Linked DNA regions of Homo sapiens. The protein of the gene in region 1 interacts with the protein of each later gene in a biochemical or structural test. Each region holds a gene or a part of one and is shown in the gene's direction. Other genes may lie near its edges. The genes, in order: GRK6, FSHR and SNCG.

Region 1 (9,630 bases):
GCTACCGGGGGATGGAGGAGAGAGACCCAAACCTGTTTCCGTGGCCCCAGTCCCTGCCCTCCCTGTGCCCATCTGTGAGGGAGGCCAGTGGAGGGGCCAACATGAGGCCCCACATTCCACCTGGAGACCGAGAGACGCAGGAGGCAGAGTCCTGGCTCTGCAGGCTCCGCCTCTTGCCGGTTGCGTGGCCTTGAACCAGACACTCCGCTGCTCCCGGCCTCACTCTGCTCCACTGGAAAACACTCATCATACCTGCCTCCCAGGGCTGCCTGGAAGATGAAAAGGGAGAGTTCAGGGAAAACTCCCCACAGGGCTGCCCTGGCAGGTAGGAGGTATTCAGAAAATAGGAGTTTCCTTCTTCTCGCTGATATTAAATCCAGAAGTTGCAAAATGGTAGCCACATGGGCCCAATTTGGCCTACATTTGTGTTTAAGTCAAACTGTTTTTAGTAAGCCAGATGGTTTCACATACAAAATACAGATTTCTGACTTCTTGTGTAAAATCTGAAGACCCGGGGACCCTGGGCGCGGCCTCCTGCAGGGCCGTATTCACCCCGCTTGATGGGGCCTGTGCTCTCCTACTGGCCAAGGTCCCCCCTGGCCAGCGGGTGTGAGTGTATCCCAGACCTAACGTGCACTGGCGTTCCTGGGGCCTGAGGGTCCACTGCCCGCCTCCTGCCCAGCCCTAACTCCCATGCCGCCCGCCCAGCTCCGGAGGTGGTGAAGAATGAACGGTACACGTTCAGCCCTGACTGGTGGGCGCTCGGCTGCCTCCTGTACGAGATGATCGCAGGCCAGTCGCCCTTCCAGCAGAGGAAGAAGAAGATCAAGCGGGAGGAGGTGGAGCGGCTGGTGAAGGAGGTCCCCGAGGAGTATTCCGAGCGCTTTTCCCCGCAGGCCCGCTCACTTTGCTCACAGGTACGGCAGCTCACAGAAGCCTGGCCAGCCAGGGCTGGGGTGGATGCACCTTTCCCTCCCTCCCACCCACTCACCTGCCTGGCCTGCCTGGCCGACTCACCCCTGCCACAGCTCCTCTGCAAGGACCCTGCCGAACGCCTGGGGTGTCGTGGGGGCAGTGCCCGCGAGGTGAAGGAGCACCCCCTCTTTAAGAAGCTGAACTTCAAGCGGCTGGGAGCTGGCATGCTGGAGCCGCCGTTCAAGCCTGACGTGAGTGCAGCCCACTCCTGCTGAGGGCGGGGCCCAGCCAGGGCTGGGGCTCAGGGGCTCTTGTAGTATCAGCCAGGATGCTTCCAGTGCAAGTGGCAGAAAAAACAATCTAGTGGCTTAGCCACAGAAATAAAGATAATTCACAAAAAGGAAAAGCCCCAGGATGGGTCTGGCTTGTGGCATGCCTGGATGGGGCTTGGAGCCTCTGACAATGTCCTAGGAACTCTCTCTCCTTCCCCTCACTGTACCGTTGAGTGTGTAGTCTTCATATTGGGGTAGCTCTCCCCATGGTGCGGCAGCAGTGGGCCCCAGCAGCTCAGCCACCACAGTAGACAGAGAGCTTCTCTTCTCTTTTCTCTTCTCCTCTCCTCTCCTTCCTTCCTTCGTTCTTTTTTCCCTTCTTTTTTCCTTTCTTTCCTTTCTTCCTTTTCTTTTCTTTTTGGAGACAGGGTCTTGCTCTGTCCCCGAGGCTGGAGTGCAGTGGTGAGATCTTGGCTCCCTGCAACCTCTGCCTCCCAGGTTCAAGCGATTCTCCTGCCTCAGCCTCCTGAGTAGCTGGGATTACAGGCGCCCACCACCATGCCCGGCTAATTTTTGTATTTTTAGTAGAGATGAGGTTTCACCATGTTGGCCAGGCTGGTCTTGAAATCCTGACCTCAGGTGATCCTCTTGCCTCGGCCTCCCAAAGTGCTGGGATTACAGGAGTGAGCCATCGCGCCTGCCCTTGCCCAATAATTTCAAAAGAAATCCTCATGGGGGAAAAGAAGTCCCAAAGCTGATGCCCATTGCCTCTCATTGCTCAGAGGCCCCTCACTGGCCACACCCAGATCATACACCCACCCGAACCTGCACCAATGGGGGAGCTCAGTTCCCCAGAGGAAAACTACAATGCAATTGCCAGCAGTGGGAGGGGCTGTTGGGCTGGCCATCCTTCTGTGGGTGGTCACTTTTCCTTATGGAGTCTCACCTGTTAACTGAGCATCTCAGTGGGCCAGGCACCCAGCAGGCAAGAGTATCCTCTAGTTGTCAGAGTCCGGGTGGCAGAAAACCAACCTAAACTCACTTAAGCTCACCGTGGAGTGTATTGGTTCATTTGGCCAGAAAGTCCCAAAGTAGGGCCAGCTCCAGGGTTTCCTGCTGTGTGCCACGATTCTCCAGCTCTTGCCTGGCCTTCAACCTGTTGACTCTTTCCCTCCCCCTGAATTAGGCTTCTCTGTGTGACAGTCATAGGGAAGGTTCTGATTGGCTAAGATGAGGTCATGTGCTTTCCCCTTCCCATGTCTATGAGGACTGGTCCTGTAATTAACGGTTCACCAGGAACACTGGAGAGGCCCGAAGGATGGGCAGGGCAGGCCAGGTTGATAGCTGTCAATGACACACACGTTTATTGATTCAGCAAATAGCTGAGTGCCCATTTATGCCAGACCCTGGAGATAATGAGGCCCACTGGAGCCAGTCCTGCCCTTACATTCTAGTGGGAGACACACCCAAACAAACCCGTAAGCCAGAAGGAATTCCAGGTAATGTTAAGTGTGACAAAGAAAACTAAAGCAAGCGGCTGGGTGCGGTGGCTCACGCTGTAATCCCAGCACTTTGGGAGGCTGAGGCAGGCGGATCACCTGAGGTTGGGAGTTCGAAGACCAGCCTGACCAACATGGAGAAACCCCATCTCTACTAAAAATACAAAATTAGCTGGGCATGGTGGCGCATGCCTGTAATCCCAGCTACTCGGCAGACTGAGGCAGGAGAATCGCTTGAACCCAAGAGGAGGAGGTTGCGGTGAGTTGAGATCGCGCATTGCACTCCAGCCTGGGCAACAAGAGTGAAACTTCATCTCAAAAAAAAAAGAAAACTAAAGCAAGCTACGAAGATGGCAGAGAATGATGGTGGGGGGAGCGCTTTTAGACACCGTGGTCTCTGGGGAGGTGATGCTGGTGCAGAAATGTAAAATATGTGAAGCGGAGAGCCATGCCAAGGTTTGGGGTGTGAGCATTCCAGGCAGAAGAAACAGCCGGGTATTGCAGTCCTGAGGCAGGGGCCAGCCCTGTGAGGTGGAGCAGCCGCGAGGACACCTGTGTGGCTGAGTGAGCCCGTGCAGGCAAAGAGGAGTGCCGGCAGGTTCTCAGCAAGATGGGACCGCTGGGGGACCCTGGGCAGGAATGTGAGGTGTGGGGAGTGGGCCATAGTGGGTGTGAGTGGAAGTGGGGAGGCCAGTGAGGGGGCTACTGCCCTGAGTGACTGCCTCACATGGGCCTCACTGGAACCGCTGGCCAGGCTGGTCTCGAACTCCTGACCTCAAGTAATCTGCTCGCCTTGGCCTCCATACCTCTTGGTCTATACCTAGAAGTAGAATTACCAGGTCATATGGTAACTATGTTTAACCTTTTGGGGAACTGCCAGACTGTTTTCCAAAGCAAAGGTGGGCCCTGTCAGAGGCACTTACTTGAACTAAGAGAGCCTGACTTTCATCAGCTCGCCCCTGAGGCTGGCACTGCCACTCAGTCTGTTCTGTTTCCTGTGTACATCATCTCATTTAACCTTGAAATAACTACACTGCCTCTGGATCTTCCATTCAAAGTCGGAGATAAAATCAGTGCCCTGGAGTTTAACTTTGTGGAAGCAGTAGATGAAAAAGCAAGCTTGATGATATTTTTTTAACAGCTCTATTGAGTTTAATTTATATGATTTATATACCATACAATTCACCCATTTAAAGTGTACAATTCGGCTGGGCGTGGTGGCTCATGCCTGTAATCCCAGCACTTTGGGAGGCCAAGGTGAGTGGATCACCTGAGGTCAGGAGTTCAAGACCAGCCTGGCCAACAAGGTGAAACCCCCGTCTCTACTAAAAATACAAAAATTAGCTGGACGTGGTGGCGCATGCCGGTAATCTCACCTACTTGGGAGGCTGAGGCAGGAGAATCGCTTGAACCTAGGAGGCGGAGGTTGCAGTGAGCTGAGATCACACCATTGCACTCCAGGCTGGGCAACAAGAGCAAAACTCCCATCTCAAAAAAAAAAAAAAAAAGTGCAATTCATTGGCTTTTTAATTATGCAGTCAGCACCACGATAAATTCTTGAGTGTGTTCATTACCTGCCCCACTCTGCAAAAAAAAAAAAAACCCATACCCTTAGCAGCCATTCCCCATGCTTCCCTCCCGCTGCTCCTAGCAATCACCAGTCTACTCTGTGTCTCTCTCTGTTTGCCTACTCTGGACATGTCATAGCTATGGCATCACATAGTATGTGATCCTCTGTGCCTGGCTTCTTTCACTTAGCATAGTATCTTCAAGGTTCATCCATGTTGTAGCATAGATCAGTGCTTCATACCTTTTTAAGGCTGAATAATATTCCATTGCATGGATAGACCACATTTTCCTTACCTGTTCGTCAGTTGGTAGACATTAAGATTGTTCCCACTTTTTGGCTGTTATTGCTGCTGTGAACATTCCTGTACAAGTTTTTGTGTGTGCAGATGCCGCCATTTCTCTTGGTCTATACCTAGGAGTAGAATTACTAGGTCATATGGTAATGATGTTTAAGCTTTTGGGGAACTGCCAGACTGTTTTCCAAAGCAGCTGTACCATTTTACATGACAATGATTTTAATTGACATCTTAATTGAAGGATTTAGAAAACAATGTTAAGATAAAAAAAGAAGGTGGCCGCCTGGAGCTGAGGTGGGCTCCCAGTGTGGGTCTGGGGAGGTGGAGCAGTGGGAGACCGTGCCAGTCCTCTGATTGGCTGGGAGAGAAGACGGCAAGTCCCAGGTCATCGCAGGGCGGGGAGCCAGGGAGTCACCAGCTCCAGGCTCTGCGTGGTGGTGCCCAGCGGAGGGGCCGGCTGAGATTCAGCCTGTACTCCCCGCCCCAACTGCATACCCAGGAAGCTGTGGGCAGGCGAAGGAGGTGCCTGGCATTGGCCTTTACACAGCCTCACAGTCATTGAGCAGTGAGGAATAACGTACGCAGTTCACAGAGGGGAAAACCAGGCTTCGGAGAGAAGGGCCTGCCCCACTTAGGAAGTGCGTGGGGCACCTGGTTTCTCCAAATCAGAGAGCTGCTGGTGTCAGGCAGCACTAGGCCAAGACCCGAGGCAGAATCAGGGCTGAGCTGCCTTCGCGTGTGCGTGTGTGTGTTTCCTATCTGACCGTTGCCTCTGTCCCACCAGCCCCAGGCCATTTACTGCAAGGATGTTCTGGACATTGAACAGTTCTCTACGGTCAAGGGCGTGGAGCTGGAGCCTACCGACCAGGACTTCTACCAGAAGTTTGCCACAGGCAGTGTGCCCATCCCCTGGCAGAACGAGGTGGGGGCCTGCCCTGCTGGTGGGGTGGGCTCCAGGAGGCTGCCCTGGGGACAGCTGTCACAGCCGCCTGCTCCTCAGCAGATGGTGGAGACCGAGTGCTTCCAAGAGCTGAATGTCTTTGGGCTGGATGGCTCAGTTCCCCCAGACCTGGACTGGAAGGGCCAGCCACCTGCACCTCCTAAAAAGGGACTGCTGCAGAGACTCTTCAGTCGCCAAGTAAGCCCCAGCAGCGGCCTACCTGGGCCCCTAACCTGGCTCCAGGGGACGGTGGGTGGGAGGCAGAGCCGGTGCCCGCATGCGCTGGGAGTGGGCGTCCTCCAGTCCTGTTGTGGTGCCCAGGGTCTCTGGCCTCATTCCCGCCTGTCCCCCACCCCTGGCTGGGCTCATGGCCTCTTTTCTCTTTCCAGAGGTGAGCAGTGTGGGCTCCCCGTGGGTTGGCCTTGCTGCCTGGCCTCGGGGAGCCACGGGCAGCCCTTCCATGGCAAAGGCAAGATGTGGGAGAAAGAAGTCTGGTGCCCGCCCCACTCCCCCTGCCCACTGCTTTGATCCCCTGCACCCTGGCCCCTTCGAGCTGCCAGCTTTGCTTCGCTTGTCTCCCCGTGCCCTGTCTCTGCCAGCCCCAGGGGAGAGGGCTGGGCAGAGGCCTTGCCCTGGCAGACCGTGGGATCTACCCAGCCCCCTTACTTCAGTCTGTTGCCGGCAGCCTCTGCAATGACGCCCACCCACGTGTGGCCTGAGCTGCTGCTCCAGGCTCCTTGTGGAGAGGCCCCTCCCCAGAGTGCACCCCTCAGGCAGCTCCTGGCCTGCCCTGGCAGGGTCGGCCCCATGTGACGTCCCTCGTGGTTAATGGCACCTGCTCTGCCTCTCTCCCTCCCTCCGTGTCTTCCCCGTCCCTCCAGGATTGCTGTGGAAACTGCAGCGACAGCGAGGAAGAGCTCCCCACCCGCCTCTAGCCCCCAGCCCGAGGCCCCCACCAGCAGTTGGCGGTAGCAGCTACTCCGAGCGCCGTTTACAGTTTTGCACAGTGATCTTCCCCATTGTCCACTCAAGTCGTGGCCTGGGGAACACAGACGGAGCTGTCCCCAGTGTCCTCCGTCCCTCAGCCCCTGGCCTGGCTGAGTTTGGCAGGGCCTGGGCCATCCCTGGGACAAAGGTGCGTCCCTTCAGCTCTTCTCCGTGGAGCTCGGGGCTTTCTGTATTTATGTATTTGTACGAATGTATATAGCGACCAGAGCATTCTTAATTCCCGCCGCAGACCTGGCGCCCCCGCCTTGGCTCCTGGGGGCAGCCAGCCCTGGCTGGGAGAGCGGGAGCTGGCAGAGGAGCCACTGCCAAACTCAAGGCTCCTCTGGCCCAGCTTGGATGGCTGAGGGTGGTCACACCCCTGAGCCTTCAGCACTGTGCTGGCCACCCCGGCCTCTGAGTAAGACTCGTGCCTCCCCCTGCTGCCCTGGGCTCAGGCTGCTACCCTCTGGGGCCCAAAGCTGTCCCTTCTCAGTGCTTGTCAGCGCTGGGTCTGGGGCCTCTGTATGCCCTAGGCCTGTGCCAAAGTGGCCAGAGATTGGGCTGCCTGTGATACCCATCAGCCCACTGCCCCGGCCGGCCCAGATAGGTCTGCCTCTGCCTTCCAGCTCCCACAGCCTGGTCCCTGATACTGGGCTCTGTCCTGCAGACACCTCTTTCAGAAACGCCCAAGCCCAGCCCCTAGGAGGGGGTGGGGCATCCCTGGTCAACCCTCAAACATTCCGGACTCCCCTCATAACAATAGACACATGTGCCCAGCAATAATCCGCCCCTTCCTGTGTGCGCCTGTGGGGTGCGTGCGCGCGCGTGTGTACCTGTGTGGGTGAAGGGGATAGGGCGAGGCTGTGCCTGTGCCCCAGGTCCCAGCCCTGGCCCTTCCCAGACTGTGATGGCCATCCTGGTCCCAGTGTTAGGGTAGCATGGGATTACAGGGCCCTGTTTTTTCCATATTTAAAGCCAATTTTTATTACTCGTTTTGTCCAACGTAAGCTGCCACATGTCTCTGTGTGAATAGTCCGAGCACAAACCTGGCTAGCCGCCCCTGCCTGCCTCTTTCTTGCTTCCGGTGCTCCAGGGGTCTTCCTGCTCCCCTGGCCCAGCTGGAAGCGGGAAGGGATTGGAGGTGGGCCTGGAGGGAAGCAGGGTGTGCCCTTCCGAGGCCCAGGAGCCCCCAGGGCTGACTCTGAACTAGCCTCTCCAGACAGCCAGGCTTTGGTAGCCTTTGGGCTCACCCAGTGGGTTTCCCAACTTCCTAAATGGGATGGGGCCTAAGGAAAGAAGCCTTGGGTACCCACTGGGATGTGGGTCTGTTTCTGACTGCTGGTAAGGCGGGCCCCGTTGGTGTCCTCCCCTCCAAGGCTAAGGTGGCCTGGCTGCCTAAATGTGGACGTAAGAGTAGGGTGGGAGCTGTGTAAGGAATGTCTGCCCCAGGCCTGCGTTACCTGGACGCCAGCCATGTACGGGCCCCGGGCTGAGGCACGTGCATCATATCCACCCCTCTGTTTTGCCCTTGACACATTATGGGCAAAGACCTAGACAGTGGGTGACGCTGGCAGATAGGCTGTGGCCAGTGTGGGAGAGTTCTCTGAAGACGGTGGTTGAGCCGGCCTCGAAGTGGACATTCACCTGGGAGGAAGGGGGACTGGGAGGCACTCAAGGGGAGCTTCCTGCCTGGGCTCTGGGGCTGAGAGCTTGTTGCCTACCAGTCTGTCCCAGATCTGGCAACCCCATCACTGCTCTATAGACTCCCAGTGTCCCCAGCTCCCTGAGAATGCCCCGTAAGCCCCATCAAGCTTGTTCCTGGCCTCTGGACTGGGCACCCAGTGCTGCAGGAGCCATGTGAGCTTTGTAGCTGACAGTTCCAGGTTCAAGCCCCAGCCTGGCCACTTTTCAAGTTGGCCCTGCACAGGCGCTTCCCTGATATGGAAAGGTAGGTGTAAGACCCATCACCTTTCTGGGCAGCTGTGAGAATCCACCAAAGCAGCCAGCCAGCCCCTTGAGTTCCCAAGCCACCGCAGGACTCCCACCTGCTGGGGAGTGGTGCTGAGTACCAAACTAACCACCTGGCTTAAGCACAGCCAGAAGGTGCCAAGCCAGCAGCCTGGCAGAAGGGGCCTTTTGTGGCCCCACTCATGACATGTGGAGTGCCTGCTGCTTCCCACCAACCTAAGGGAAGTAAGGGGAGTGGGGACCTGCTCAAGGTCTTCCAACTGGTTAAGTGGCCATTGCAGGGTGGGGAGGAAACCAGGTAATGATGGGAAAGCTGGATCCTACCCATGTATCATGAGAAAGGAGCCTGGGGTGGGTTTGCCCCTCTGCCCCAGGCTGTTATGAGGTGGGAGTGGGGGATTTTTAGGTAGGTGTTAGCATGTCATACCAAAGCCCAGCCCTGGGCAGGTATGCAAGAGAGCGCGTGCCAGGTGGATGTGCAGGACCCTGAGGCACTCTGCCTGCACCTGGATCAGGACACCCTGGCCAGCTCCCCCTTGGGCTAGGGAGGCATCCAGGGAACTTCTTGGCTAGGGTTAAACTCACCTTAAAGCTCTTAACACAGTGGGTCCTTGGCAGAGGGAACTCCCAGAATTCATTTCCCAAGAAGCTTCCCTGAGCTGTCCTCCATGCCCAGCTCTATGGTGGGAACTGGGACCCAGATGGAGACGAGGCCCCTGGCAGCTTGGAGCTCAGTCTGGTAGGGAGGCAGACGTGGGAACAGCGGGACCCAGTGTGATCAGCACTGTGGAAGAGAGGATTCTAGAGCTGACAGGGTTGGGGGTGGGGCAGCACCAAACAGGGAGGCCCCTTGACCCTGAAGGTGTCAGAATTGGTGCCCTCCAGGACACAGGGTCAGATGTACCCAAGTAGAGGAGCCAGATGGATGGTCTAGGGCTTTAGTGGTTTAGGATGGCTGAGCATGGGAGGCCAGGGGTGGAAGCAAGGAATGGCTGGAGCTGAAGTCAGTGAGACACAGCCAGCTTTGAAAGCTAGATTAAGGATCACAGGGTTAAGGCCCAGATGGGGCCTCATCTGGAAGGTAGGGGATTCCCTGAAGGGTTTTTACTGGTTGTGTTGGGGTGTTTGCTCCAGCATGTACAAAAGCACCCCCAGTCTCTGTCCATGTGGTTTAGACGGGGCTG
Region 2 (9,914 bases), on another chromosome or scaffold:
GAGTGAGCACACTGGCCTCATCCCCAAGGACACAAAAGGGTTAAGGTAAGCCTGTGATGCAGTAACTCCTTAGTTGATGTTCTGCCCAGGTTGTTGTAGTCATCGTCATCATCGTCATCATCGTCATCATCTGGTTTTCAAATAGGTACTTCCTCTCTTAAGAGACCAGGGGTGCGTGTAATAAATGTGGGTTTCCCTTTGTTACTAGCTTGAGATTCCCACAGATAACGTAAATCCAAGGGCAGCAGTTCTGAACATAATTTGTTTTTTTTGTGTGATGATCCACTGCTGATATCAAGAAATACCATCCTCCTCCCCATATAATGGTATCTGTTGATTGAGATAATCCATAAAGACAAAGGGATATTTGAATACAATAATTATTTAAAATTAGTTTATGTTTTATTTGATTATAGCAACATCGATTTACAGGACAGTAATATGCAAGAAATATTAATTATCTAGTCAATAGGCAAATAGGTGGAACCTGTATGGATTAAGGGTCAGCCAACTACATATAACCCAGAGGCCAAATCCAGCTCATGAGCTAAGACAGGAAACACTAACATTAGATCTAAGTTAAGCAAAATGTTATCCCCCACTAAAAATTCTCTTCTCAATATTAGGCCTATATTACAAAAAAAAAAAATACCCAATTATTACACTTTGAATTTGGTCAATAAAAAATTGTGGTAATTGTTTTATAAGTACATAAAGTACTTATATAATATTTTTTATTTTTGCCTTTTGGCCCATAAAACCTAAACTTTACTATCAGGCCCTTTACAGAAAAAGTTTGCTGAATCCTGTATTTGATTCAAATCCCCAGGGATCCACATGCCACAGCTACCTCAGCAACTCCCACTATCCTGCAACAGTCAGGAGTCCAGATGTGCCTGGGAGAGGCTTTCTCAAATGGCATTGGGGGTGCATAGCCACTTCTTTGCCATCAGAACCCACCAATTGATTGTGAATGTTTTAAAAGATTTGCCTCGCCCCTTTCTGGATTTTTTTAGGTAATTGGTTTTCAAGAGGAGGAAAAAGACATACAGTTGTTCTCCTGTGATTTTAAGTGTTTTCTGGCTACCCATGGCAGCCCAGGAAAGAGAGTCCTGGATGCACAGGAGCTTCTCTGGGTCAGCTTTCTGTACAGTGTTATTTGCAAGCCCACTAAGCTGGACAGGGAAAAGAACCTGACAGCAAAACAAGAGCAGGTAGTCAGAGGTTCTTCGGGCTAAGCTCTCCTGACCTTGGTATCTGTTTTTGTTTTCAGATCCACTCAGGAGCAGAGCAAGGCAGAGCTGTAGCCCAAGGTGTCCTTGGGCTCCCCTGTCCAGGGAACCCTGCTCACTGACCTTCTTAGCGCAATCAGGATGGCTGTTCTACACCCATCTCCACCTCCCCCAGAACCTCCTCCCCTGCTCATTCAGATCACCTCACCCTGCCACAGCCCACATTCTCTGTAATTGATTTCTCTTCCTTTCTGGCTTAACCCAGAGCCACCTCCACAAACCTCCAATAACCAGGTCCCTATGGGTCACAGGAGATGTTCAGGTTGTCTGACAACTTAATTAGATCACTTTTGATGACAGCCAGGCCTGCTGCTGTGGGTGATCATGGGTGAAAGGCTTAAGGCCTTAGAGAAAGGTGACACAAAATGTTCTTTCTCTGTCTTATAAACACTTGTTCAATAATTGTACGATTCCTGTCCTTCAGGATGAGAAAGATCTGTCGCTCCCCGCATTGCTTCTCTACACACAAATGATGTGTGTAAAGACCTTACAGTTATAGAATCCAGGCTGCTCTGCCTAAGTATGCCTTTCAAACTTAAATTTCATTTAATCCTTTGAATAGGTAATACATGCAAGTAATACAAACTTCAAAAGTTACAAAAGATTATACAGCAATAAATCAGTCTTCCTCCCACCCGTGTCCCCAAGCTTTAAAAGTGGCATTTTCTTTATGCCACTAACCTGTGCTGTCTGCCCTTGCTCAGTGCTTCCAATTATGAAACCCGTGTATTGTTTGCATCTGACATTATTGGTTTTTTAATAGGCCTTTTATTTCAGATGGCTGAATAAGAATGGGATTCAAGAAATACACAACTGTGCATTCAATGGAACCCAACTAGATGAGCTGTAAGTAGCCCTGACTATTCTTCAAGGCCATTTAAAGGGAAATGGCTCTTACAACAGCAATATTTATGTGGCTTTGTGTTTTCCTTCTTCTTTCCTCAACCCCATCCCCAGGAATCTAAGCGATAATAATAATTTAGAAGAATTGCCTAATGATGTTTTCCACGGAGCCTCTGGACCAGTCATTCTGTGAGTAGCTTTCCCCATTTCTGTGTGTAAGAGCTCAGTTTGTGTAAGTTAGAAGTCAACTCTCTGCAGCTAGGGGAGAAGCTTCCAACACAGGGCTGGCCATCAAGTTCAATTTTTATTCGTGTCATCTGCAAAAATTTATAGAGACAATTTAAGGCTTATCCACGGTCTAACTCTCCATTAAAAAGCAACACTAATAATAACATGTAATGAGCACGTACAGAGTGTCAGATGGCGTTCTCAGAAGTTAAGATGCATTTTCTTGTTTAATCCTTATAATCACCCCCTGTGGTAGGAGCTATTATTCCCGTTTTACAGAAGGAAAAACTGGCTTCCCTGGAGAGGTTAATTCACCCACTCAAGGTTATACAAGAGTTACAGCAGGGATTTAAACTGATCTAACTCATGGTACAGACCCACAACCACTCGATCATGTGTCTCTTCCCTGGAAAGGAAAGCACAATTCTCCATCATCCTCAACACTCAGGAGGTTCCTTCAACCCAATGAGACCTATATACACATTATTTTTGGATCCTCTTTCCAAATCCCTTGGGATGCATTCCGTGCCTCACAGCCCTGCATCAGCACCCCTCCCTCTTGTCATTTCCTTACTTCCATCTTTCCCTCCAAAAGTGACTTTCCCATCTTCTCTTCTTACCTACACTGCCCCTTCCATCAAGCATCATTCCAAAGTCCTCTACCTCCTCAAGTCTCTCTGACAACCTCGCCATCAGTGACTTCTTCCCGTGGCTCTCATGGCCTTTAAGGCTTCTTTGGTGGGGGGACAATCTGCATCACAATCACAAAAAGGCTTTTTAAAAATGTGTTCCTGGGCTCTAAGCAAGACCTACTACACTTACTGACTGAAAAAAGTACTTCAAGATGAAGAAAGGAACCCAAAAGGAGAGAATGAGGTACAAGAAGGAATGGTGAGCAGAGCAATAGATAAACATGTTAATAAATCTACAGTTTTACTGAATGATCCTTATGTAGCCTGCCTTAAGTCAAGTCAGGCGTTTAGAAGCCACCTGCCTGAACCTCTTATTTGGCAGTTAGCATAGGCTACCATGTGTGGTTATCTACCCACCTACCGACCAACCATCTATCTGCATCACTTTTGTCTACACCAAATAGCTAATATTCTCCTTCAGGCTGGAACCTGTGTACCTCTAGAATTAGACTTGGTATGGAGAGTCAGAATTTTAAATATTTATTATTAATGATAAAGGGTGTGTTGTGATCTATATATGAGATTCTGCTGCTTTGAAGAAGAAATATACACTTCAAGGTAGATTTATCATCCTGACCATGTTCAAAGATTATTCGAGAATGCCTGGCTTGAGATAGGCAACCTATACAAATGGAGTATCCGTGTGATTAAAGCGGAGATACAGAGCAGACTGCCTTGGTTTAGACCAATTCTTTTACCTCTCTAAGCCTTGGTTTCCTCACCTAAAAAAAATGGCCAAAACAATACCTATTTCCTAATATTATTTGAAGCATAAAACACACACACACACATAAATATTTTTTCACTCATCAGATAAATTTTTAAGCATCAGTCTTGTGCCATGCAGGAAACAAAGGAAAGTTCCTCCTCATAGAAAGCTTATATTCTCATTGGGGGTGGGAATAGAGAGGAGTCAGGCAATACATTAAATATACAACTTAATATATCAAGTCATGATCTATCTATGAAGTACAAGGAAGGACCCAGGGCTAACAAATGGAGAGTGTTGGGCATATAGTCCATGTACTCAAGAATACAAAGTACTCAAAACTTGTACTGCTTAGTTCATGTACCCTGTTCTTAGAGTACTCGGGAGACAAATGAATTTTGACAAGTACTTTTGATGTCTTTGATCCCCACAATAGCAGCATGTCAGTTTCACTTAGCAAAAAGCCCTGAAAGTTTTGAATGTTCCTAAGAAGGCATCTCTATCTGTTCATGGCAGAATATGTCAGTGATGGGTGTGTTTATATATGTGACCTGTACCAGGTACAATATTGAATCTATAGCATCTTAACCTATCTGCTCCCGAGAATAATGAAGTTGGATGAGATCCCCCAACTCCTTCATTATCCAACTGAAGAAATCAGAACCCAGAGGAGAGTGATCTGTTAAAGATCACACTGCAACTAGAAGGGGCAGAGTCTGGACCAGAAACTAGGTCTTCTGCCTCACATTCCATGTATTCCCACCATACCATGTTGCCATAAATACGTTTAATTGAACATCTAAAAGTTATTCGGTGAGGCCCCCTGAAACTGGTTGTGAGCTAAAATAGAGAGGAAAATAACTATTAACACCAGCCTCCCAGCCTAAGAACACCAGTCAATGTTAGATAAACGTGGCACAGAAGAACATCTCCTGAGGTTGCACAAGCAGATTCCAGGCGAAGATACTGCACAATGTATCTCATAAGAATGTTTAACAGAGAACACAAAACTTGAATCCCCCATCTAGCCCCACTGTGAACGCAGGCAGGAAGAGAGCCTCTGTGAAAGCATCGGAAGCAATTCTACAAGGTCCTCAAGTTATAGGCCCATTGTTTTGTCCTTCTTACCACAGGAACACATCTGTCTAGAATTAAGGGAATACAATTTACAGAAAATCCATGGAATTAGGAAGCACTCCCCATGACTTAAAAAGGTAGAGAGTGATAATACATTCCCACATATTTCCATCTCAGTGCAGGATCCTGGCTGGAAGCCCAGCCTATAATTGCGAATTTCCTCTTTTCCCCCTGGGGCCAAAAGAATTGTTCACCTTAACATCAAGCCCCCCTTTCTGGGGCTTTCAGATCAGTCCATAGATGTTCTTCAAGCCTCTCCCCCTGCTGACCTGAGATGCAAGAAGACTAATAGCTTATTCCACATCTCACTTCTGCATCCAGATACACTAAACCATCTAAACCCTGGCCTGAGAGGTGCTTGTGTAGGTGTGCAGTAGACCAGCCCACCTCAGGTGATGAGTTAAGAGGTAAGAGTAGGAGTATGCGTAGGCTATTCAGACCACAGTAGGTGCAAATCATGCTGATCTTGACTGTGCCTTGGGTCAGATTGCAGTCCCCGCTCCCACACACACACACACACACACACACAAAGACTGTGATATATCTGCATGCGGGAGGTTTACCGGAGGGTGCTCTCAGAATGTACAGGGAACCCTTGATGGAAGCAGAATCAGGGTAATGCATTTGCAACAAAAGGCTCAGCTGATCCCATGGGGAGATCTGGAGTTAAGATGGTCCTTCAAAGTTGTACTGAATTAAGGTAAGGGGCAAGTCCTCCATATCAAGAATTATTGGGTGCAGGCTGTCCCTGGGGAGGAACCAAACTCCTGGGGAGGAGAAAGTCAGCTGAGGGCAATTCCCAGAGTAGACTCGGCTATGAGCCACCTCAGCTGTGAGTGGTTCTCAGTTGTCCTAGAGCAGCATGTTCAGAGTTGAGTAGGTTTTGGGGGGGTGTTTTTGTGGTTTTTTTTAATCACCCATGCTGGAGTGCAGTGGTGCCATCATAGCTGACAGCAGCGTTAAACTCCCGAGCTCTAGTGATCCTCCTGCCTCAGCCTTCTGAGTAGCTGGGACTACAAGCGTGCACCACCACACCTGGCCATTTTTTTTGTTGCAGAGACAGGGTCTCACTATGTTGCCAAGGCTGATCTCAAACTCCTGGCCTCAAGTTATTCTCCTGCCTTGGACTCCCAAAGCACTGGAATTACAGGCGTGAGTCATAACACCCAGCTCCCACCTTTAGAATTTTTGATTCAGTAGGTCAGGGTTGAGGCCTGATAACTTGTATCTCTAACATCTTCCTAGTGAAACTGATGCTGCTTGTCCAGAGTGCTCTCTGAGAATTACTGCCCTAGGACCAATATTGGGAATTGGGAAGCCTTGCTCAGTCTCCAAAATATCTCCTCCACAAGCCAAATGTGGTGAATCTTCCTCCCTCACTGGCTCAGTCCTTTTTCTCCAGTGGATATATGCAAGGAATTCTAAGAAAATTAAGGGGCACACACTCAAACTGATGATAGCTGCTTTCCTGAAGGCAAAATTTGTAGTTGAGGGAAGAATAGGGAGCCTCTGAACACCTGAGGGTGCAAGGGTGCACTGTTCCACACAAAGAAAGATAGATGCAGAGAAAGCCAGGGGCATACAAACAAGTTTCATCGAGTTTCAGAGGAGCAGCTCAGCATCCTCATTTCCCCCTTGTGAGTCTTGACCTTGAACATCAGCAGCCATCTGAGTTTTTACCTGATATTCTGAACTCACTCAAGGTTGTTTTTTTTTAAGCAATCGAACAATTGCTGTTTCTTTGGGAAACAGTTTCCTGTGGGGAAAATTTAATGCATTGCCTTTGCAGGCTGGAGCCAGTACAATCATATTCTGATGGTTTATCAAATTGATTTGGCTATAGCTCAGATTCATTTGATAGTTCAGATTCAAACACTGAGTTATTTGTATAAGAATGGTTCTCTTCCATTACCAGTGTACCCACAGTCCTATAGATAGTAAATTGCCTTTTTATCCAGCCTGGGATCATGAAAGAGAGGTCTTCTAGCCATCTGTCAGTGTAGTATACACCAGAAATGTGCTCTCACTTATGGAAATGATTGACCTGTAATAACATCTTTGCTGGGAAAAATAGAAATTGTTCAAATCAAATTTGTGGCACTGGCTATAACACACTTTATTAAATGGGGCACAGAGTGCTTTTTAACTCCTGCCTCTCCTGCCTCAGCCTCTTACTACCCTCCTACCCATGCAGTCTCTCTTGCTACTCTGTATCTCAAAATGAAGAGTACTAACAATGTGGAAACAATTTTAAATTACTAAGTCTCTTCTGTGCAAGTCATAATCCCATGGGGTATCCACTGGTCTTTTCAAGATTTAAATTCTCAAAACTACTCACTATCTGAATATAGCATGTGTTGCAACGTTAAAAGTGATATTTTTAAAAGAAAGACCAAAATCATTAGAAGAGACCAGCCTGAAAGATAAAGTTTAAAAACACCAGTCCACAACTACCCCTCCCCGCTTGTCCAGCCCACCAGTTCCAGGCACAAGGGCAGGAATAAAGTAAACATTCTCAAGCACTCATTGAGGGCATCAAGTCTTACATGACATACATTTAGTGGATGTTGATTAAACACCTACTGTGTGTCTGGCAAGGGGTAAGAAATATATGTGAAAACAGAAAACAGTACCTACTGTAATGCATCTGGCCAAGGGATGAATGTTACTCCCCAGTACAATGAGCACTGCAGAAATTTTCACAAATGGCTATAGTAATATACAGCAGATGCCTAATAAACCCTTGTCATCATGTCACACAATGACTTTTAACACGTGAAGTGATAGTGTGGGAGGAGACAGCCTCTGTCATCCTAGGCCTGAATTTCTGCAAAAGCCACGTTGTCCCCTTCCTACCCTCAGTCCTTTCCCCTTCCATTAGTTTACCAACTATTTATTGAACACCCACCATATGCTGGTATCAAGGTTCTCAAGACTAATCTTACAAAAATCCAGCTTTGAATAAACCATTCTTCTGCTCATATAAATCCTAAACTCTTCTGCATGACTATCAAGGCTCAGAGATCTAATCCCGTCCCATGGTTCCCTTTACTCCTCCAAGTATGATTGCCCAGAATAACTATTCTAAATAACCCTCCCTCACTGTGCCATGATTTATGTTCTGGGCCTCTCTCTAAGCCTATCTTTAGCAAATAGTCATTGTATTAGTCAAGGTTATTCAAAGACAGAAACGAGAGAGAGAGAGAGAGAGGAGAGGGGATTTTATTATTATTATTATATTTTAAGTTCTGGGATACATGTGCAGAACATGCAGGTTTGTTACATAGGTGTACACGTGCCATGGTGGTTTGCTGCACCCATCAACCCATCATCTACATTAGGTATAACTGAAGGAGACAGAGACACGAAAAACCCCTCAAAAACGTCAGTAAATCCAGGAGCTGGCTTTTGGAAGAGAATAACAAAATAAACAGACTGCTAGCCAGACTAATGAAGAATAAAAGAGAGAAGAATCAAATAAACACAATAAAAAATGATAAAGGAGATATCACCACTGATCCCACAGAAATACAAACTACCATCAGAGAATACTATAAACACCTCTATGCAAATAAACTAAAAAATGTAAAAGAAATGGATAAATTCCTGGACACATACACCATTCCAAGACTAATCCAGGAAGAAGATGAATCCCTGAATAGACCAATAACAAGTTCAGAAATTGAGGCAGTAACTAATAGCCTACCAACCAAAAAAAGCCCAGGACCAGACAGATTCACAGCCAAATTCTACCAGAGGTACAAAAAGGAGCTGGTACCATTCCTTCTGAAACTATTCCAAACAACAGAAAAAGAGGGACTCCTCTCTAACTCATTTTGTGAGGCAGCATCATCCTGATACCAAAACCTGGCAGAGACAAGAAAAAGAAAAATTTCAGGCCAATATCCCTGATGAACATCGATGCGAAAATCCTCAATGAAATACTGACAAACTGAATCCAGCAGCACATCAAAAAGCTTATCCACCACGATCAAGTCAGCTTCATCCCTGGGATGCAAGGCTGGTTCAAAATACACAAATCAATAAACATAATCCATCACATAAACAGAACCAATGACAAAAACCATATGATTATCTCAATAGATGCAGAAAATGCCTTCGACAAAATTCAACACCACTTCATGCTAAAAAGTCTCAATAATCTAGGTATTGATGGACCGTATCTCAAAATAATAAGAGCTATTTATGACAAACTCGCAGCCAATATCATACTGAATGGGCAAAAACTGGAAGCATTTCCTTTGAAAACTGGCACAAGACAAAGATGCCCTCTCTCACCACTCCTATTCAACACAGTGTTGGAAGTTCTGGCCAGGACAATCAGGCAAGAGAAAGAAATAAAAGGTATTCAAATAGGAAGAGAGGAAGTCAGATTGTCCGTTTGCGGATGACATGATTGTATATTTAGAAAACCCCATCATCTCTGCCCCAAATCTCCTTAAGCTGATAAGCAACTTCAGCAAAGTCTCAGGATACAAAATCAATGTGCAAAAATCACAAGCATTCCTATACACCAATAATAGACAAACAGAGGGCCAAATCATGAGCAAACTCCCATTCACAATTGCTACAGAGAGAATAAAAATACCTAGGAATACAACTTACAAGGGATGTGAAGGACCTCTTCAAGGAGAACTGTGAACCACTGCTCGAGGAAATAAGAGAAGAGGAGATTTCTTAGGGACATTGGCTCACATGGCTATGGAGGCTGAGGAGTCCATGATAGGCTATCTGCAAGCTGGAGAACCAGGGAAGCTATAGCATGGCTTGGTCCAAACTTGAAAGCTTCAGAACCGGGGAGGCCATCTAATTCTCAGTCCAAGCAAGAGGCCTGACGTGCCTGTGTCAACAAGGAGACAGACATGCACTGGGGAGTAAGTAGAATGATACATTGGGTGGACTGACTTGAACACCATCCAGTGTTCAGGTGTTGGATTGGGAAGAGGCCTGAGAACCAGGGAAATTGATGGTATAACTCTGAGTCTGAAGTCA
Region 3 (10,240 bases), on another chromosome or scaffold:
GTAAGCCTGAGGGTACTGCAGGAGACCAGGGCATATCTCAGTCCTTATCACAACCGCATAGGACAGACACTCCCAGAGCGGCCGTTTATAGACCTCCCCGCAGGAATGTAATTCTTTTCCTAGGGTCTTAATATTATATTCCTTGCTAGGAAAAGAATTTAGCGATATCTCTCCTACTTGCATATCCGTTTATAGGCTCTCTGCAAGAAGAAAAATATGGCTCCTTTTGCCCGACCCCGCAGGCAGTTAGACCTTATGGTTGTCTTCCCTTGTTCCCTAAAATCGCTGTTATTCTGTTCATTTTCAAGGTGCACTGATATCATATTATTAAAACACACGTTTTACAATCAATTTGTACAGTTAACGCAAAATCACAGGGTCCTGAGGTGATGTACATCCTCAGCTTATGAAGATAACAGGATTAAGAGATTAAAGCAAGACAGGCATAAGAAATTATGAGTATTATTAGGGAAGTGATAAATGTCCATATTAAAATGAAATCTTCACAATTTATGTTCAGAGATTGCAGTAAAGACAGGTGTAAGAAATTATAAGAGTATTAATTTTGGGAACTGATATATGCCCATATTAAAATGAAATCTTCACAATTTATGTTCCTCTGCCGCGGCTCCAGCCTGTCCCTCCGTTCAGGGTCCCTGACTTCCCGCAACAGCTCAGCCCTAGGGAAAAATCTCTCTTAGACCAGTGGTTCTCAATGGGAGGAGAGGGTACTTTCCCCAGGTGCATTGTCACGACTGGGTGGTGGGTGCTACTCATGACTAGGTATCTCATGGGTGGGGCCCAAAGATGCTGCCAAATACCCTACAATGCATAGGACATCTCCACACCCCACCACAAGGAATTATCTAGTCCAAAATGTCAGTATGCCAGGGCTGAGAAACTCTCTCTAAACAAACTTCCATTCCTTGCAAACCTCTGACCTACTGCAGAGGGCCTGGAAGGCGTGTGCCCCAGGCACGCCTGGCCTGGTCCAGCCTGCCAGGAGTGACTGGGACTTTCCACCTCAAGCTCCTGGAAGTGGAAACTATGCCGCCCACCCTTCCTGCCCAGGAACTTTCTCCGCTGACCTGCCCAGACCCTGGGCTTCAGCACTGCTATTCTCTCTGCCCATGCTCCCCACCCTGGGCAGGCCCTCCCTTGGCACAGTACAGGCTGCTGGCCCAGAACCCTGGGAACATTCCTGACCTTTGCTTTGGCTTCCTCCAGCTCTTGGCAGCTTCTGGCTGGCCCTTGATGCCCATGCCCCCGGCCCAACTTGCTGAAGTGCCCATTTTTCCCTCTGCCCCTCCGTCTCAGGCTGGCTTCATCTTTGTGCCCTCCCTTGGGGAGTCCTGCTGGGTGCCCTCATCTCCCAGTGGCCAACCCAGAGTGGATGTGGGGCTCCTCTGGCCTGGTTTGGAGCTGCCCTTGGTCTGCTGTGGCCCCAACCTGCTGCTCCACCCAGATAGGAGGGTACGTGGACTCCTTTGGAGCTTTAAATGGAAGCTGGGCGGCCTGCGTTCTCCTCTCCTCCTCCTCCCTGAACCCACAGTGACCTTGGGCAAGGCCCTTCCCCCATCATCGAAATGCGAAGAAGCTGTGCCTCTGCGGCACACAGATCAGAGCTGGTGTGGGGGGAAGGGAGAGGGAGCCTGTGGGAGGGGGAGGGCGCATCCATTATGCAGATTGTGTGGAGTGCCTTCCCTTCCCCAGCCAGGAAACGCCCTCCCAGGGGCCCTCAAGTCTTCCTTGGGAAGGAAGGCGTGTTCTCAGCAGCCTTGTTTTCTGAGGCCCTGAAGCCAGCCATTAACTTGACCATTCCAGGGGAGAAACTCACAGGATTTTGTCCTTGAGTCAGAAAAGGGCCTTGGCAGAGAAGCCTGAGGCTCTCAGGGATCAGCCCAGAGCTAAGAACCCCTGAGCGTGGTTCTGGAAGCTTCAGCTCTGGCCAGTGGGGGTTCTTCCCTGTTCATACCAAGGGCTCTGTGCCCGGCAGGGGTCGGGGGTGGGGGTGAGGATGGGGGAGGAACAAGTGCAAAAGGTGCATCGTGGCCCAGAGAAGGCGGCCTGTGCTCTGCCCTGCTCCTGTGTGACCTCCAGTCATATGCTGGACTCCTCTGGGCCACAAGCTCCCAGCTGGGAAAATCTCAGTGCTCTTTGTGTAAGGGTCAGGAGAAGCCTGAGGCTGGTGACTGGGGCCAACCAGCCTGCTGGCAGCAGCATCCCCTACACGGCCACCCTCTTGGGGGGACAGGACAGCCTGGGTGGGCCTGGGCTCTCACTGTCACTTAGGAGCTCTGTGGCCCTGGGAGGCGTCCCCACCCCTCCAAGCTATCATAGCAATGTGATAGATGGGACACCTTGCCTGGGGCTCAGCACGGTCCCTACCGCAGACTGAGTTCCACTGGGACAGCAAATCCTGGGTCTGAGGCACCCACATTCTAGACATCCCCAAGCCAGGGCACAGAAACAGCCTCTTCCTCCCGGAGTCCTAATGCTCAGGCTGCTGGCTCCCTGGGCTGGGCCCCTCGGGGTCCCTGGCAACCTAAGAAGCAGTTAACCCCTTCGCTTCTCCACCTCAGGGAAGTCTGAGGACGTAGTGGTTCTATTCAAGCTTCTCCTTGCAAAGGGTCTTATTGGGGCCTGCATCCTGGGCCCAGCCTAGCCCTGGGGCTCTGGAAACAGATGTAAGTGGCAAAGGCAGGGCAGAATGCCTGGCCCTGGCAGCCGAGCCTCCTTGTGATGGTGTTGGTGTCACCACCCCTGCTAGCAGAACCCAGTCTGCCTCCCCTTCCCATGCTGCAGGGACAGGGTCTGGAGCACGCTTCCACCTCCCTGGTCACAGGAGCAAGGGAAGTAATCAGCCCAGGAAGCCGCGCGTTTCCTTCCTTTCTCACCAGCCCATCCGGGTTTGGTGAGAGAGCATGGACTTGCCCTGTGGAGACTGCAGCTTCTGGATGTGGGAAGGAGAGCCCTGCAGGCAGGGGGCTTCCAGGCTTGGGACACCTGGGCATTCCTGGGCCAGGTACATGCACCCTCCCACTCAGAACCCCAGAGAAGGACTGCGGGGCCCCTGCAGGGCTGCCCATCAGCAGTTCCCAAACCCTCACTCCTTGGGGCTAAGGGAGCAATGTCTCTCCCACAACCAAGGGGGTGGGGAGGAAGAGGAGCAGCTCCCTCCTCCCTCCCGTCCACCGGGTCCTCTCATCCTCCCTTTCATCAAAAGGCGGAAGGTGGCCTGAGACTAAGGCGTGGAGCTTCCTTGGTCCTGAAATCAGAGCGGAGTGGCTGGATCCAGCCCGCCCCTCCCCCGCCCCCTGCTCCCCTTGCCGCCCCACCACCGAGAATCACCTGCACCTCCCAGCCCTGAGCAGAGTTGGGGGCAGGCGGGAATGAGGTTTCTCCATGGCCAACTGCTCAGCCACTGTTCCCCACGCCACTGCCACCAGACCCTCACTAAGGGGCCTCTTGCCCCTCCCTGGTCAAATCTGTTTTCAGGAAAGCACCCAACAAACCTGCAACTCAGAAGCCAAATGAGACCTATCCCAGGCAGGTCCGCTCTGCGATGGTGGCTCTCATACACCGCACAGAAGTGTAAGTTGGCCCCCCCCTCACTCCCTAAATCCATGTAGATGCCCTTAGCCAAACAGGTCTGGTGTGTGGGGGCAGGAGGGTGGAGGTAGGAGCATCTGGGGGCTGGGGCTGGCTCCAAGTGCTGCAGAGAGTTCACTATGAGCTCTGAAGTCAAACTCAGATCCTGCTCCTTAGCTGTGTGGCCTTGGGCAAGCCCCTCAGCCTCTCTGAGCCTCAGGCTCCTCCTCTGTAAGTGGGGCTGTTGGAGGGATGAACTGAGATACACGTGGCAAGGTGCCTGGCCCTGAGACTGGGGGCCCCGTAAACAGCACCTGCTGCTCTGACTGAGGGGCAGTTGGAGATGAGGGGGGACTTACAGGCCCAACACCTCATCAGCAGGATGGGCCCTGGCTCTGTACACATAGAATGTTGGAAAGCTATGTTCTGGGTCCAGTTGCAAGACCATCCTGCCCACTTGCTGGGTCGCTGAGGCAGAGCGCCCTGGACTGTGCTCTGGAGAGCAGGGGGCCGTCTCTGCTCACTGCTGGGCAGTCAGAGTCAGGTCCCCAGGGAACTCAGATCAAAATCTCAGGGCAGCCTTGCTGGGTCTCAGCTTTCAGAATTGATTTCTTTGGAAGAACAGGAGGCATAGCCAGGCCAGCTGGCAATGGCTTCAGCCACAGTCCCCCAGTGCCCCATGCTGGGTGATTGATGGTAGGAGCTGTGCCTCCCTGCCAGCCCCCCAAGCCCCATTCCCTGCCATGGCTCCGACAGGGAACTCCCTGCAATTCTTAGGTGGATCCTGAAACACCCAGTCCAGACTACTTTTTCAGCCTCACAGATGGCCCAGAGATAGATACTATTAGCCCATTTCACAGATGGGACCCCAGTGAGGTCTAGAGAGGCTCTGCTCTAGCTGAGCTGGGACTCAGATCCTACTCCATGACCTCTGCCAAGGTCCAGGCCCTCTTACCGTCCTACGGGGTCCTTGCCGGTGTCCTCAGCCTCTGCCTTCCAGACCCCAGGTGTCCTGGAGCTCTGCAGATCAGAGAGGCTAGTACTGGAAGCCTGGGCCCATGCCCCCAGCAGCCCCCAGCCCAGGGGGCCCCCAAGGCTGAACAGCAAGCTCAGGATCATCTTGGTGGTGGGGCAGGCTCAGCTCACACTCAGCCTTGGCAAGTAGCTCCAGAAACTGCTAGTGACGTTGTCTTCAAGTTAAATCTCAGGAGGAAAAGAAAATACGAGGACAACAAAGAGAGGAAGTGGCCTGGGCCGGCCTACCCGGTGGGTCTTGTCCTGCCCCCCAACTACCCTGGCTGGCCCCACAGGGGCCGCCAACCACACAAGCCAGTTCCTGTCCCTGAGGACTTGGCTCAGGGACTCTGGGAATGTGGTAGACATGGGGTGGCCCCACCAAATGCATCCTTATGGGAACCTGCTCCCTGGGAGCCATGAAAAGAGCGTGGACTTCGAGGTGGGGCCACAGGAAGTGGTCAGGTCCATCTCAGGGGACCTGCTGCCCATCCACACTGCTGGCCAGGAAATGGGGGGCAATTCATGCCTCCTCAGCACCTTCAGCACTGGGCGGCTCAAAGAAGGGAAGGGACTATTCTGGGGTCACACAGCATGCAGCCAGAGGCCAAGGCATGAGGAAGTCCTTCATTTCCCCACCCCCACCCACCTCAGATCCTCCAACCGGTTTCATGGCAGCCCAGGGTCCAGCGGCATCCAGGATGCTGGTGGGTAGCTGCACAGCCCAGGCCGCGGGAGGTTGGCTGCTCTCACCTAACAGGCCTATGTGGCCCTGACCCCTACCTAGGAAGCTGGGGACAATGGCCAAGGCGCCTCCCCTCTCTGTGCCTGTCTGTCCAGGTGCAGCATAGACACAGCACCCCTGGGGCCAAGAGCACCCAGCCAGGGCTGCCCCCATGGGTGGGCAGGGCAGTAAATGAATGAGGGACAGGTTGGGAGGTGGCCAGCCCCCTCCAGCCCATGGAGGGCACGGGGCAGGAGAGCTGGGCTGAGCCAGCAGGAGCCCAGGGAGCCTGGTCTCTGCCTTCCTATCCTGGAGGAAGGTGAGGCTGAACCTCCTTCCCTCCCTCCCTCCCTCCCCGCCCCCACTGCACGCAGGGCTGGCTGGGCTCCAGCTGGCCTCCGCATCAATATTTCATCGGCGTCAATAGGAGGCATCGGGGACAGCCGCTGCGGCAGCACTCGAGCCAGCTCAAGCCCGCAGCTCGCAGGGAGATCCAGCTCCGTCCTGCCTGCAGCAGCACAACCCTGCACACCCACCATGGATGTCTTCAAGAAGGGCTTCTCCATCGCCAAGGAGGGCGTGGTGGGTGCGGTGGAAAAGACCAAGCAGGGGGTGACGGAAGCAGCTGAGAAGACCAAGGAGGGGGTCATGTATGTGGGTAAGTGGGGCATGGCAGGGTGGGACAGTGTGGTGGCCAAAGGGTGAGTGCCCAGTTACCTTCGCCAGACCTTACTCCCCAGCCCCAGGGAGGCATTTTGGGAGGGGGCGAGGCCCTGGCTATCAAGGTGGGGTCTCCAGACCCTGGAGCACCCACAATGCCCTGTGCACACCTATGTGTGTTTGTCTTTGGCCTCCTCGGGGCCTCTGGGTGTCAGAGACCGCAGACAGGGCTGGCTACCTGTCTGTGCACGCACACACACATTCCCAAGCATACCAGCCTCCCCTGAGCCTGGAGCCCCTGAAGCCATGAGCAGCCTGTGCTCAGGTGGCCCCCACCCTCTCCACACGGGAGCGGCTACAGCCAGGTCACGGATCCCCTCCCTCCCCAGAGAGAAGGGGCAGGCTGGGGGATGAAACCTAGGCTCAGTGTTCCCTCCCCCGCATCCTCTCCTGGCACTCTCCAGAGGAGGAAGGGGAGGTCAAGCCAATGACTCAGCTCTGGCCCATCCTGTCCTGTTGCTGCTTCTGAGGCCCGGCCACACCCGGGCAGGGGCTGGACCCTGGGTCTAGCCAGTGTCCCTACCTCAGGCCTGCTCTCTCTTGTCCCCCACATTCTGTCCTGTCCCCTTCCCATCCATCCACTTCTTCCAGACACAGCAGGAAGAGGCCCTCTGAAGGGGCCGCCGGCCCCCAGACACCATCCTTACCCCCCCACCGACCCCACAGTTTGTCCAGCTGTTCTGTTGTGTTTGTCCTGACCGCCCCCAACACCTCGAGGGAGGTCTGGGCTGACAGCTCCATTTCCTCCCCAGGAGCCAAGACCAAGGAGAATGTTGTACAGAGCGTGACCTCAGGTGAGAAGCCCCAGGGCCAGGGGACACATGGGGGATAGGACCCCTGGGGCTCCTGCATCCTAGTGCTGGGGCTCAAACCTAGAGTCCTGCCTTACCCCCAACTGGGGTCCCAAGCCCTACAGACCCCTGCAGACCATGAGGCTAAACTAGGGTGGGCGTCTCCTTACCCCCACCAGCATCAGAGGTGCCCTGGAGTCAGAGGGAGCAGGGGAGGGTCCCAGCAGGGCCAGGGCTCTGAGCTCCTGGGAAGGGGCTGCGAGCCTGACTCCAGCAGGCCTGCCTTGGGGCTGGGGCTGGGGTGGAGGCCAGCCAGTGTCCTCCCATAGTGGCCGAGAAGACCAAGGAGCAGGCCAACGCCGTGAGCGAGGCTGTGGTGAGCAGCGTCAACACTGTGGCCACCAAGACCGTGGAGGAGGCGGAGAACATCGCGGTCACCTCCGGGGTGGTGCGCAAGGTGAGCCCCGGCCCTCAGACCTGCCCAGTCCTCTCCTGGGCCCAGAAAGGCTGCTGGGCGGAGGCGGCATCACTCCACTCCACACCCCAGGAAACAACACGGGGGGCTGCGGCTGGCTTCAGTTTCAGTACCCACTGAGCGCCGGCATGGGGTGGGGTCCATGCTTGCTGTTCGACCTGCATTCGGGTCTGGAATCACCACAACCACCCCTTCGGGGGACTTGGGAGCCCATCTCATAGACAAGGAAAGTGAGGCTCAAAACCACATCTTCCGGACGGCTCTCAGCACTTAGGAGACACCCCATTTTATAAGTGAAAACAGGATCCCACACGGTGACAGGCAGCCTCCCGGGCAGTGGTCACCAGGCCGGGGGCTGAGTAGCACCAGCCCCGCCCCCAGGGCCTAGCCTCCCTCCCTGGGCTGGGCGGGGCAGCTGCCTCCTGCTGGGAGCCTCAGGGAAGTAGCGTCCCCTAGTGGTAAGAAAGCAGTGCTGCTTCTGACCCTACCCTCTGCAGCTGCCTTTGTGTGTGTGTGCACGTGTGTTGAGTGAGCATGTGGGTGCATTTGTGAGAATGTGTGGGTGTACATGCGTGTGAATGTACACATGCGTGTGCGGCCCAATAGCAGACAGCACAGGAGCAGTGGGGCGCACCCCAGGGACGGGTGTTGGCTGGGTGAGCTGTCCCAGCACCTGTGACACAGCAAGCTCTGCTTTACGCATTGTACGCTTATTAGTTCATTTAATAGACACAAAATCCATGAGACGGTGTGGAAACTAAGGCCCAGAGAGATTAATGTGCCCAAGGTCCCATGGCTAGTTCATGTGAGCTTGGAATTCCCCTGAGCAGCCTGTACTCTGAGAGACCCTGTGGCAGTGTAAGTGGTGGCCTGGGCTAGGATTCCTACCTGGGGGTGGGGCGGGGGAGCAGTGTCCAGCTCTCCTACCTGCTCCAGGCCTCCTAGGTGGTGGAGTCTGAGGCTCTGAGCACTGAGAATCCCTGCGTTAGGAGTGGGTGGGTGGAAGGGTGGGGGCTGCCCTACTCCTCTTGGCTCTGGGGCGATGCCCAGGTGTCTGCTTCCAGGGCCAGCACAGGGTCTCCATGTCCTTGGAGCTGGCAGCCGCTCCCTCTCCTAGTTCCCCTTTCTCGTCGTATGACCTTGAGAAGCAAAGGAACCTCTCTGGGCCTCCGTGTTCTCATCTGCAAGATGGGGGTGAGAGTGTCGGCCTCCCTGGGCTGTGTGATGAGGCAGGGCCATGACCTCCATGAAGCAATTCTCCTGGTCTATGTGAGCACCCAGCAGAGGAAGGTGACCATCATCATCATCATCATCATGTGTCCCAGGCAGAACACATAGAGCCCCAGGGGGCTCCTCCCTCCTCACCCCCAGCAAAAGAGGCCCTGGGGTGAGGGTGCCCGGGCATTCCTTGTGAATCCCGGAGCAGGGCTAGTGAGCCCTTGGAGCCACCTCGAGGGAGACTCATTTCCTGGTGACACCCCAAAACCAGTCACGACTCATCTCCCAGTGAACTGTGAAAGGCCTCAGCAGGGACTATCTGACCACTCATACCCCTGGCCTCATCATCAGCCTTAGGGCAGCAGGACTCAGCAGGTGGCCACCTGCCCTGCCCCTGGATAGCCTGGCCGACTCCCGCCAGCACAGCACTGCCCTTTTATGCCCCACTCCGCCAAGGGGCAGGATGGCCCTGGGGCAACACAGAGGTGACAGTATCCCCGCCTCCCCCCCGTCCCCCGCCAGAGGCAGGTGCTGAGGCCAGAGTGCAGGGCAATCACCAGTGTGGTCCTACACACCCAGCTGTCATGATATCTCACGCAAGTGTCTGGCCGGCATGGAGTGCAGGAGATAGAAGATGGGAAGTGAGAGAGGACTGTGTAACCTCTGCTGGCCCTGACCAGCCTGAGCCCAGAGCCTGTCCAGGAGGCAAAGAGAGGGAGCCATGCTCCTGTGGACTGAAGTGGGCCTGAAGCAAGCCTGATCTGATGCCAACACACCCCACCACTTTGAGCTCGAAGGCCCTGAGCTGCATGCCAAGCCTCCCTGGCCTCAGAGTCCCTATGTGAACCCCAATCAGTCTTCCTTGTAGGGCTACTGAGGGTGGGGTCAGACCTGGGGCTTCAGGGGCCTCTGCCCACTCTAACCCCCACTCCACCCTACCCCACCCAGGTTCCTCATCAGTGAAGCCCAACTAGGGGCTTCCCAGAGACTGGGGACCAGCTTGAGGGGTGAAGCTGGGCTCCAGGGTACTTGGTGCCCCTGGAAGGCCTCGGCATCATCAGAGCCCCGGGTATTGTCTGAATTGCACGCCCCCAATACCTCCAGCCCCTCCAAGTACAACAAGGCCACGAGGGGCCTCTGCTCCTCCTTGAGGCCAGGGTAGACAAGGCCCTGGTTGCAGGGCAGCTAGGGGTCTCTGCATTCTCCACATGGTCTCATGCCCCCTTTTGTCCCCTACAGGAGGACTTGAGGCCATCTGCCCCCCAACAGGAGGGTGAGGCATCCAAAGAGAAAGAGGAAGTGGCAGAGGAGGTAGGAGCTGGGCTCCTGGGGTGCACCATGGGGGGTTCCTTGGTAGGGACCCCATCCCCCACAGACGCACTGCTTCCCTCCTGGGCTCCCAGGGCCCAGAGGGGCCTCCTGACCTTCCACAGCCCCTACAGGGACTGTGTACAGGGCTAACCCTGAACCTGAGTGGGAGGTCCCCCCACGGATGACCCCTCAGGCATGGGGCACAGAAGACAACTTTTCTCAGCCCACTCAGGGTGGCCCATTAAGGCTGGGGCCTGGAGCTGGGTGTGCAGGTCATTCTCTCTCCCAGGCCCAGAGTGGGGGAGACTAGAGGGCTACAGGCCAGCGTGGATGACCTGAAGAGCGCTCCTCTGCCTTGGACACCATCCCCTCCTAGCACAAGGAGTGCCCGCCTTG

What was found.
Region 2: of the proteins of GRK6 (region 1) and FSHR, one has a biochemical effect on the other in vitro, tested with the Homo sapiens proteins (one study listed by BioGRID).
Region 3: of the proteins of GRK6 (region 1) and SNCG, one has a biochemical effect on the other in vitro, tested with the Homo sapiens proteins (one study listed by BioGRID).

What each region holds. Positions count from the first base shown.
Region 1 is NC_000005.10:177,435,365-177,444,994, forward strand, and holds the end of GRK6 (G protein-coupled receptor kinase 6), read left to right. Parts: intron 1-708; coding exon 709-917; intron 918-1,028; coding exon 1,029-1,166; intron 1,167-2,524; exon of another isoform or gene 2,525-3,506; intron 3,507-4,549; exon of another isoform or gene 4,550-4,667; intron 4,668-5,335; coding exon 5,336-5,473; intron 5,474-5,554; coding exon 5,555-5,689; intron 5,690-5,880; coding exon of another isoform or gene 5,881-5,886; exon of another isoform or gene 5,887-5,989; intron 5,990-6,370; coding exon of another isoform or gene 6,371-6,372; coding exon 6,373-6,426; coding exon of another isoform or gene 6,427-6,463; 3' UTR 6,464-7,527; downstream 7,528-9,630.
Region 2 is NC_000002.12:48,975,322-48,985,235, reverse strand, and holds part of FSHR (follicle-stimulating hormone receptor isoform 1 precursor), read left to right. Parts: intron 1-2,069; coding exon 2,070-2,138; intron 2,139-2,249; coding exon 2,250-2,324; intron 2,325-9,914. UniProt on the Homo sapiens protein: G protein-coupled receptor for follitropin, the follicle-stimulating hormone. Through cAMP production activates the downstream PI3K-AKT and ERK1/ERK2 signaling pathways.
Region 3 is NC_000010.11:86,952,832-86,963,071, forward strand, and holds the start of SNCG (gamma-synuclein), read left to right. Parts: upstream 1-5,866; coding exon 5,867-5,987; intron 5,988-6,801; coding exon 6,802-6,843; intron 6,844-7,117; coding exon of another isoform or gene 7,118-7,169; coding exon 7,170-7,297; intron 7,298-9,772; coding exon 9,773-9,844; intron 9,845-10,133; coding exon 10,134-10,154; 3' UTR 10,155-10,240. Other genes in the region: MMRN2 (multimerin-2 precursor), read right to left, coding at 4,547-4,710. UniProt on the Homo sapiens protein: Plays a role in neurofilament network integrity. May be involved in modulating axonal architecture during development and in the adult. In vitro, increases the susceptibility of neurofilament-H to calcium-dependent proteases.